Regions from separate parts of the Homo sapiens genome. Here region 1 is reported to be linked to region 2. Evidence: microRNA targets listed by miRTarBase, many of them from high-throughput screens and not tested one by one. Region 2 holds a microRNA gene; the other region holds the end of a gene's coding sequence.

Evidence for each region. The annotated mature microRNA hsa-miR-4698 reads UCAAAAUGUAGAGGAAGACCCCA and lies in region 2 at 2,317-2,339, shown strand. An mRNA with a match to its seed (bases 2 to 7 or 8) in the 3' UTR can be bound and repressed. Matches are read on the target gene's strand: a 7mer-m8 pairs with bases 2 to 8, a 7mer-A1 pairs with bases 2 to 7 and ends in A, and an 8mer does both.
Region 1: the mRNA of E2F8 is a reported target of hsa-miR-4698. Seed matches in the 3' UTR shown: 7mer-m8 at 4,041-4,047.

The regions. Positions count from the first base shown.
Region 1 is chr11:19,220,225-19,225,224 of GRCh38, forward strand. E2F8 (E2F transcription factor 8) reads right to left here. Exons shown (of 13, transcript NM_024680.4): 12 at 4,997-5,000; 13 at 3,839-4,616. The coding sequence ends at 4,434. The region is part of intron 1 of CSRP3-AS1 (CSRP3 and E2F8 antisense RNA 1); the gene reads left to right. Among named protein-coding and RNA genes, the nearest start is that of E2F8, 18 kb to the right of the region's middle.
Region 2 is chr12:47,185,544-47,190,719 of GRCh38, forward strand. It overlaps MIR4698 (microRNA 4698), which reads left to right and starts at 2,269; the gene lies at 2,269-2,348. All of the region lies in intron 2 of PCED1B (PC-esterase domain containing 1B), which reads left to right.

The DNA of each region.
Region 1 (5,000 bases), not on the chromosome of region 2:
TAGATATATGTACTTAAAGTCATATAAAAACATATATACATATACATGTCTATCTGAGATATAAATAATACATAAGGTAGGATAGAGGGGCAAGACAAGTAGAAGCTGATATCAAAGTTGGAGACAGACAACCACAAAAAAAAAAAAAGAACTTGAAAAGGAAAATATTCTGGAGCCATTAATTTGAAAAAGATGTGGACCTATACATTTATTAGCCCCTGAAGGCATTACGGTATCATAGGTGGCTTAAACTGTGTTTGTTGAATTTGAATTTAACAAAGCAACAGTGCTCATGAATTTCTGAAATGTGAAGAAAAGTTTAAATTATAGTCAAAGTACAGTGCTCTATTTAGGAAATGGGGAGCTATATTATCATTTTAGAAAGATTTTAATTCATAGTAACAAAATTGTTCTTATTCACGATGAACTTCTAGAAGATTCACACATAGAGGATATTTTTATGAAACAAAATAGGATAATATAGGCATTGTTTTGCATGACACAGTGCTGAGCATATGGTAAAAACTAGTAAATACTTGAAAAAGAATTCAGTATATACAGGGCCTTTTAAAAATGCACTTGATTACTTGACTGCTGGAGGACACGATAATATATTCCTTACCTACATTTTTCTACAAAATGTTGACAATCATAACAAGTCCTCATTTAGCCGCTGATTTGATTGAGCAAGTCACTGGCCTGTGTTCACTCAAATGGGAGACTAAAATGTAAAACTACTTCCTAAAAAGTTGACTAAGAAATTGATACCTTTTGTCAACCTAAAATAATAACACATTTCCTTTGAGCTTATCTCTTATTTTAAGCCCTCAAGATATGAAAACTACTACTGATAAGTACTGTAAAGAATCTGCAGTCAACTCACATTCTTTTATATAATTAGTAGGATTGCTCAGGCAGCTTATCTGCTTTAAGTTCTGAAAATCTCTTTATCCTTTATCTTCAGAAACACTAATCACTTGGGAAGGACAAGACTGAGAGAACTTGCTTTAAAGTCGATTAACAAATTTTTTTTTCATCAAATTCTATTGCTTGAGTTTCCTGGGTTTCTTGAATCTATTAGTTCAACTACTTCCCTTTCTGGTATCTGAAATTGTACTTTACATCCACTTGAGCATAGGTGAGTTGCTTGCATTTCCTGGCGAGATAAGCATTTCTGAAGGCCTTTTCTATTCATTCTTTGGCTGACTTTTGCCAGGCCCAGGGAACAGGGAACAACTAGTCTGAGAACTAGGAAGCCTTTGCTCTGGGTTTCCTTCTGTGATCTGGTAAGAGCCCTTTGGCTACCAGCCACAGAAATGACTGGCAACATTAAGCAAAAGAAACTCTTGGAAGGATAGCAAAGGCCCAGACTCAGCGGATGGCTGAAAATCTGGTTTGAAGATGGGCTGGTGCCATGGCCACTTCAGAGGCTGGGAAGCAGGAGCCTCAGCAACAGTTGCAGCAGGGACAGACAGCAAGAACAACACTGCTAGGATGAGATGGAACATCCAATCCCGGGGGGCTGGCCCAGGCTGGATGTTACATTTACAGTCCACTGGGCTCCATCCAACATGGAAAATGTCATTCCTTAGAGGAAATAAGGAGGCAGTTTGGGAAAAGAAACTTTTCCCATTGCATGCTGGCCAGATAACTTTGTCCACTACTGTGCTACTACCTAGTATCTTTAAAGTTGCTTCCAGCTTTGAAAACAAATGGAGAGTGCTTCTCCCATTAAAGCCGTTGGAATTACCACGTCTTAGCGATGTTTCCTTCTATGAATGCCTGTGAAACCAATGAACAATAATAGGACAAACCTGGAAGACTTTTGTGAACAATGGGGGTTTATGTGGCTATAATAGTTATCTATTGCTGTATAACAGTATTAGCACAAACTTATATCTTAAAATACATGTTTATTGTCTCATAGTTTCTGTGTGTCAGGAATCCATACATGGCTCAGTTTGGGTCCTCTGTAGGGTCTTATAAGGCTGCGATCAAAGTGGAACTGGGAGCTGTGGTCTCATCTGAGGCTTGACTGGGGAAAGAGCCACTCTGAGCTCATTCAGGTTGTTTGCAGAATTTGTGGCCATATGCAGGACTGATTTGTTTTTTGCTGGTTGTTGGCTACGGCCTGCCTTTTGCTGAAAGGCTGCCCACAGGCCCTTGCCACTTTGGGCCCACCGACATGGCTGCTTTGATTCCTAAAAGCCAGCAAGGGAGAGAGACTACAGCAAGATGGGCACCACAGTCTTATGACATGTGACCACATAACCACACACACAGTCACACGCCCCGTCACCTTTACTGTATCCTATTGGTTAGAAGTAAGTTACAGGTCCCAGCCACACTCAAGGGGAGGGGAGAACACAAGGGTGTAAACACCAGGAGGTGGGGATCAAGGGGCAACCTCACAAACCTGTCAGAGAAGCAGTACTGGGTGGGACAGTGTCCAGAGCTGCCTGGAAATCTAACACCTCCCTTCTTCCTATGCGTCTAATTTCCCCAGGAAGGTAATTCTTTATGTGGAGAATTGATGAGGGGAACAAAACAAAACCTTGGCTTCCAATCTCTCTAGCTCAACCACAGAGGAGAAGTGGGAGGGAGACGTAAGAACCTCCTCAGAGACACAGCAGCTGTCTGTCTTGGTGTTTCTCTCATAGTTCCGTGTAACCAATTAAATCTAGTAGCCTCTACAGAACTATATATTTTGTCTTTATCTACCACTGGGCAACTTATCTTTTCTCTTTATTGCATGGAAATGCTTTATTTATTCATGTGTACATACTATCTTTCTCAACTATAAGCACCTTGAAGGCAGGGGCCATTTCTTAAATCAGAGACCATTCACCTGTTCTCTAAGAAGGATAAAAACAAAGGTACTTTGGAGGAAATAGTTCATATTGGTTCTCTAGTGGTGGAGGAAGAGGGGTTTCTAGGTCAAGGTGCAAATCTGCCCTCTTCTAGCTGTACTTGGTTGTGCAAACAAAACATGTGTATTTGAAAGGGCTGACTTTATTAATGCTCAGATTACCCTGAATCAATGTGCTTGATTCCTACTAGAGCTGCTAGGCATGTCTCTAGAAGTAAATGGGCAATGGATAATGAGGTCCAATAGACATGAGCTGAGACTTGCATACACTAGCAGTGTGACCATGGACTTGTTGCTTTAATCCCTGTGAGCCTCAGTTGTAGCTCACAGATATGATACATTTAAAACGTATAACCCTGTCTACATATAGTAAACATGTAGGAAATAGATACTATGATGCTCCTTTAAGACCCTAACCAGGGAAAGCACTTGTCAATTCTCAAGGTGCAGTTCTTCCCATAACAAACGGGTCAAAGAGATGCACACTTAACACACTGGAACTTGTCCCTTCTCTTGGAGCTCCTGGGGGTTCTCCAGGTGTGGAGGACATTAGAATCCTTACTGCCGTTTTCCTGTCCCTGGAGCTGGGCCATCCAAGAAGTATGTTAAGAGAGCTGGTACAGACCCACCTCTGAGTAGAGCAGGAAGCGTGGGACAGATGCTGGTCACACCAGGGCCCCTAGGCGCCTACCTTTCATTTCTAATCTCGTGGAGTGTGGTAGGAAGCACATGGGACTTAGCTAGGTGTTCTTGGCCAAGCAACAACCTCTCCAAAGCCAATTTTACTTCTGCAAAAGTGGAGCAATCTCAAGGGTCAAAATGGGGGACAGAATGTAGAAACATTCTATAAACTTTGCATATCTAATGGAACCCAGCATGGATACTCTTTACTAAGAATTTGCCTCTGTGATTAGGTAAATTTTAATTTTCTCCCAACAGTGCCCTAACCGGCGAAATGAAAATGCTAACTATATTTTAGAAAAGTTTTAATTTGAACAACTTATGATTAAAAATACATTTTATAAATAATTTTTCCATAGACTTGATTGAGGATTGTTGCAAACTTTACAAAAAGATACACTGCAACAACAGATTAAAGAAATTACAAAAAATATAGCTATACCCCTATTTAAAAATACAACATTATACATCACACAGCATTTTCTTTGTGCAAAATGTTTAAGGGAATGCTGTGTTAGGCATGTCAAGCATATTTGCTTAGAGGGAAGTAAACTTTAATACAGTTACTTTGCATAATAGTATAGGCATAGCTAAAATAATGGATTTTTCCCCCTAGAAGTTAATATATCTTAGAGTTCAACATTTTACTTTTATTTTGTAGGATTGAAAGCTAAACTTAGCTTTATACAAATATATGTGTGTGTGTGTGTGTGTGTGTGTGTGTATATATATATATGTATGAAAACAACTATCTGATTTCACATTGAACAAATCCCCAACGTATTTACAGTATTTTCAGAGAATGTGTTCTCCAAATCAGTCTGTGTACATTTTCTCTATTAAACAACTCTTTAGAAAATTAAACTAAGCCAACATCTGTTGATTAATGGACATCCTCTGTTGAGACTTCCAGTTTTCGCTGTGGGACAAAGAGAGTTCCTAAGGAGGTTTTATTAGCACCCTCAAAATCCATGCAGGATGAGCTGGTTGGCTTGGTGGGTCCACCTGGGGTACGGAAGAAACTTTCGGCCACTAATTGTGACCCTTTGGGTGTCACAGGAACAGGCTGATTGGAAAGAGAAGAATGGACAAAAGAAGTCAACCACACACAGGTACATAGTCTTACCAGACTTGGAAGATTGGGCTGGATGAATGTATTGCACATTGGGAAACTGGCGTATCTTGAAATTGGCGAGGGAAGCTTTGGTGAGTTTTACATTCTCAATTATTTTTGTTAGGGGAGAGACAAAAATCTCATGATAACCCAACAATATGGATGCCTTGGACACTCTTCCTGGGTTCTGGAAGAAACATAGGCCTTCAATCTCCTGACTTTCCCATCCTTTCCCTCTCCAAAGAGGAAAAGCAAAAGCCAATCTCTTATGACACAGATACTTGGGGCTTAGTAATTCCAGGAAAAATTAAATTAAGTAGAAAGCCTCTCACCTGT
Region 2 (5,176 bases):
TTTGGAAGGCTGACGGGGGTGGATCACTTAAGGCCAGCAGTTCGAGACCAGCCTGGCCAACATGTTGAAACCCCATCTCTACTGAAAATACAAAGATTAGCTGGGCTTGGTGGCAGGCACCTGTAATCCCAACTATGCAGGAGGCTGAGGCAGCAGAACTGCTTGAACCTGGGAGGTGGAGGTTGCAGTGAGCTGAAATCGTGGTACTACTACTCCAGCTTGGGCAACAGCAGAGCTAGACTCAGTCTCAAAAAAAAAAAAAGACTGTATATTAGACTGACAAAAGACAGATTAACAAGAGAAAAACAAACAAGTTTATTGAAATATGCATTGCACATACACATAGGAGTATTCAGTAATAAGTAATTCAAAGGAGTGGTTAGAACTTGAACTTAGTCTGGTGCAGTGGCTCACACCTGTAATCCCAGCACTTTGGGAGGCCAAGGTGGGCGGATCACGAGGTCAAGAGTTTGAGACCAGCCTGACCAACATGGTGAAACCCCATCTCTACTAAAAATAACAAAATTAGCCAGATGTGGTGGCACGCCCCTGTAATCCCAGCTACTCAGGAGACTGAGGCAGGAGAACTGCTTGAACCCAGGGGGCAGGGGTTGCAGTGAGCCAAGATCGCGCCCCTGCACTCCAGCCTGGGTGACAGAGTGAGACTCCGTCTAAAAAAAAAGAAAAAAAAAAAGAACTTGAACTTACATAGAATTGAGCAAAGAACAATAATTTTGTAGAGAAGTGGCAAGACAAAGGAAAATGACTTTGAGCTTCTAGGGGCAGCAAATTGTGGGAAGGCAAATATATGGGGAAACTTATGGTAGATGAGGGCTAGTTAATACGTTTTGTTTTTGTAGATTCCTCTGGATGACATCTTGTCTCCAGTGATAAGGTGTTGTCCCTTTATGTTATCCCTTTACTGGTAGGGGGGTAGAGGGGGGCACTTTCACAAGGGGAGCTTATGTTCTGTTTTCAGGCAGATAGGAGGCGGACAGAGATCTCATCCTGGGTCTGCTTTTTCTCAGTTGCCTTCAAGTCAAAATAATCCATATGCCAGAGTGGCATATTGTGGGGTGGCATAATCCAAACCCCTTCATTGGCAAGCATCAGAAGCCAGGAAGAGACAAGAAAAGGTTTTTTCCCCTACAGCTTTCAGAAGGAGCATGGCCCTGCTGACACCTTATTTCAGTCTGAGGGCCTTCAGAATTGTGAGATACTACATTTCTGTTGTAATCTACCCAGTTTGTGATACTTCGTGATGGCAGCCCAAGGAAATTAACACAGCACAAAATCTTGTCTTTACTTAGGATATCTCCAGCTGATTTCTTTTTATATCCTATTGGCCAGAACAAGGTCAAATGCCCAAACCAAGAACAACCAATTGATAAAGGGAAGGAGATTTCCATGACTGGTTAGGCCTATCCTGGAGTCGGGGACCACTCTCCTTGGAAGCAAAGATCTCTCCTTACCACCTGAACACACTGAAAGAAGGGAAAATGGCTCTTGGGGAGGTAGTGGGTAGTGCCTATCACACTTGAAGGTGGACCACTGTGCTGCTCTGTGGACTTTAGAAATGCTGCCCTACTTAACAGTGTTTGAGATTCATCTCAAAACAGATCTTTACCTTCTCCAGAAGCACTCAGGAGTTTAGGTGAAAGATCCAGGTGGATAGCTCCAGGGTAAGAAGTTAGAAATGCTGACACTATGTGAGAGATAGTGTTCATAGGGAGAGACCATGGGATCTTACCTAAAACCAAGAAATGGGTGGTAAATGTAGTGAAAAGGAAGCACCAGGAAATTGGAAATCTCAGGGAGGAGAAAAGGCAGGTGAAATGATCTGGTACTGATGAAAATCCCCCATCTCTACATCAAGGGGATTATTAACTCAGTTTCAAAAATAGAGAACAAGAGAGAAAAAGAGAAACAGGGATGCTGTTTTAACTATAGGCAGCAGTATATAGTAAGACATATTTTTAATCTTTTATCAGTGAAAGTGTAAACAGTTAAATCCAGCACTAAATAATAAATGTGTCAATATTTTAAAATATATTTTTTCATAGCTAAAATTAGAACTAAACATGCTAATGAACTCAGCACCAAGGGCTGGAGGTGATGGAGAGAACATTTCATCTCCCAGGCAACTCCCAACTCTGCAAGTTCTAGAATTCCTAAACATTAAATTTTCTTCATTGAAGACATATTTGGGAACTATAGCTTCATCATAAGGCAGCCAAGTCTTGTGATATATGGGTTAAAGGAAAGTTATGCTTCTCCTGGGGTCTTCCTCTACATTTCCACCTAGACGGGCCTGGGTCAAAATGTAGAGGAAGACCCCAGAAGGAGCAAAACTTTCACCTGCGCCTCTTCCACCTGGGTCTGTCCTTTATCCTACCAGCTCCAAGAACAGGATTGTAATTGGTCACCTGATCTACCTGCATCTTCCTGACTGCAACAAGTTCTTTGCCCTATAGCTGCTTTATTTCCACAGTTTGTCTTACCTGGAAGCACCTCTTCCTTCTTGGAGTCCCTTCTGTTCCCCAGACATACCTCTGTCATGGCACCATAGCATTTTGTGGCTTTTAAAAATTACATGTCTTATCTCCCCTTACTAAGGACTTTGGGGACAGTGATCTTGCCTTAGTTGTCTTTGGGTTCCCAGCATCTAACACCATTGGGGTCTCTTAAATGTTGGATGAATAAATAAATTATTAAAGGCTAATCTCAGGGGGGAATAGAATATGTCATAAATTCCTCAGCTGGAACTCATAGGGATCAATGATGTCCCACACAAAAGCCCTATAGGGACAAGAATTCAGGAAGGGTGTTAGCTGCAAATCTTCCTGGCCTATGGAGAAGCATGGAATATACTGTGAGCCATATATGTCCCTGAAGCTAATCTAATCTATCTCAATGAAATTATATGCTTAGGTATTGTCATCTCAGTTTCTAATGTGTAACTTTTGCTTTCCTTGGAAATTGAAAGGATTTGAGCCATTTCTTAGGTAGTTTCAGGACGATACTGCTTCTCAGAGTTAAGGACTTCCTTTTTTCAATGTGTACCTGAACATCCAGAAGTTAAAAACAAGAGTAGCAGAGTCTTGCAGATGCAAACATAGTACAGAAGTTCTCATCCATCGCCCAAATTGAAACGTGCAATGTAAGCTGTAGCCATCCAGTTCCACTGCAGTGCTGGAGCAGAGGAGCAAGGGAGTTGGGATGAATGTGAAGAACTCAGAGGACCATTGGGAGCATATTCATTTCACTCATTCTCCGTAAAAAACAGGCATGTTGCTGGTAACCTGGACTTTTTCCAACCCTGGCTACACAGTTGCTGGATTTAGGTGCCAGACTCCTGTTGCTTCTTATTGCAAAATGCCCCCACATGGCATTTTGCCCCATTTTCATTTCTGCTTCTGATTAGGTCACTGTGAACTTTCTCTCCATGTTTACTCAAAGTACCAGAAATATGTAGGGACAGCCTCCACTTATCTCGAGATTTCCTGCTGTTCATGATTCAGCTCACTTTGCTGTTCTTTTTCATTTCCTCTATCTTACATTTTGATTGTTTTTTATCTTCTTTTTCTTCAGCTTTATTGCTTGTTTCATTGGTTCTTAGCCCAGTGTCTGAAAGTGACCCTGAGAAGTTGTCTAAGCAGAAAAGCATGCATTGTGTTTTTAGATTGTTCAAGACAGGGCCGCCATTACCCCATTGGATGCCTTTGTGCAAAGTGGAAAAATGTGTCCTTTTCTCTGAGGAGATGCAGCCCTACACTAGGGTGCATGGCTTGGTTAGCAGAAGGCAGACTGATTTCAAAATCCAGTCTATTGTGCATTCTTGTGCCGTGAATGGAGAGGTGCAGCCCTGTTTAGAGAAGAGCCTGTAATCTTGCTTAAATAAGTCACTACAGCAACTATTATCTCACAGTGAAAATGTTCCTCTTTAAAGGCCGCTAAATAAATGAATGACCTTGGACATACATTTATTTCCTCACTTTTCAGTAGTTTACAAGATCCCTGAACACCATTCAAGGCTTATATTAGTGGCTTTCTGCTACCGCTAACATCAAATCCAAAACACCATGGACTTACTTGCAAGGTCTTATTTGCACTTTCAGCATAGCACCATGGACTTATTAGCACACTTTAGTGTTATATTACCATCTCACACTTGTCTTCATTTCAGCAAACAATTAATAAACATGGACTAGGAGCCAAACTCTTGAAGCACAACTTTCGTTTATCACCAGCTTCGCATTTTCACCTCATCTAACCCTACTAACAAAATGCATATCCTTGAAACTTCCAAACAGAAGACTCTGGGGATGTTTGGCAAAACCTCAGCATAACTTCTGCTGCTCCAGGCTTGGGATCCACAGAAGAGCTGCCTCTTGGGTCAGCTCTTCCAGCCCTGCTCGGCTCCTCCCTTGGCCACTCCCAGTCCCACAGACCCTCCTCTATGCACTGTGCTCAGACACCTGCTTGAAGTGCAGAAACTACTTCAGTATCACTTGAGGGAATCTCTAGGTATAAATTCTACACAGAAGAAAAATGTTAATACTCTATTTGCATAGTGTTTTGTTATTTAGGAAATGCTTTCACATGCATTAGTTCGTGTAATCCTGAGTTGGAATAATCAGCCAAAAAGCAAAAATGCATACAATTCAGTTGTCTCTCAGTCTATCCCACCCCGTTCTTCCCATGGTGCTGGTTGGTTCATAAATGGGAGCAAGTGAAAGCCTGCCCCATTGTGGCCCCAGTTCTGGGCTTCAGTTTCCAAAATAGATACAGACCTCACCCAAGTTCCATCTGTTCTAACCCACTTCCTCCTTGTCCTGGTCTCCAACCTTTGGCACCCATGCATTCACTTTGGTCGCCTCTTCCAGGTCTTTCTTCCTCCAGCTCCCTGCAGGTTAAGGATGAAGTGGTTTCTCTCAATTCCCTTTGTACGAGAAACACAGGGTTCTTTATGCCTACACCAGTTTCAGTGGGAAACCCTCTTTATAGCAGCTATGCAAATCCTGCATCTGGGATACCTGTGACTCATTTACACAGAATCTTGATCCTTTCAAACAACAATAGTAACACTAACTCATGCTTACTGGTTTCTGCGTGGCAGGCATGGCACTCTGTGCTCTCTGCATGTTATCTCATACTGTTGCAGATTTAGGTTGAG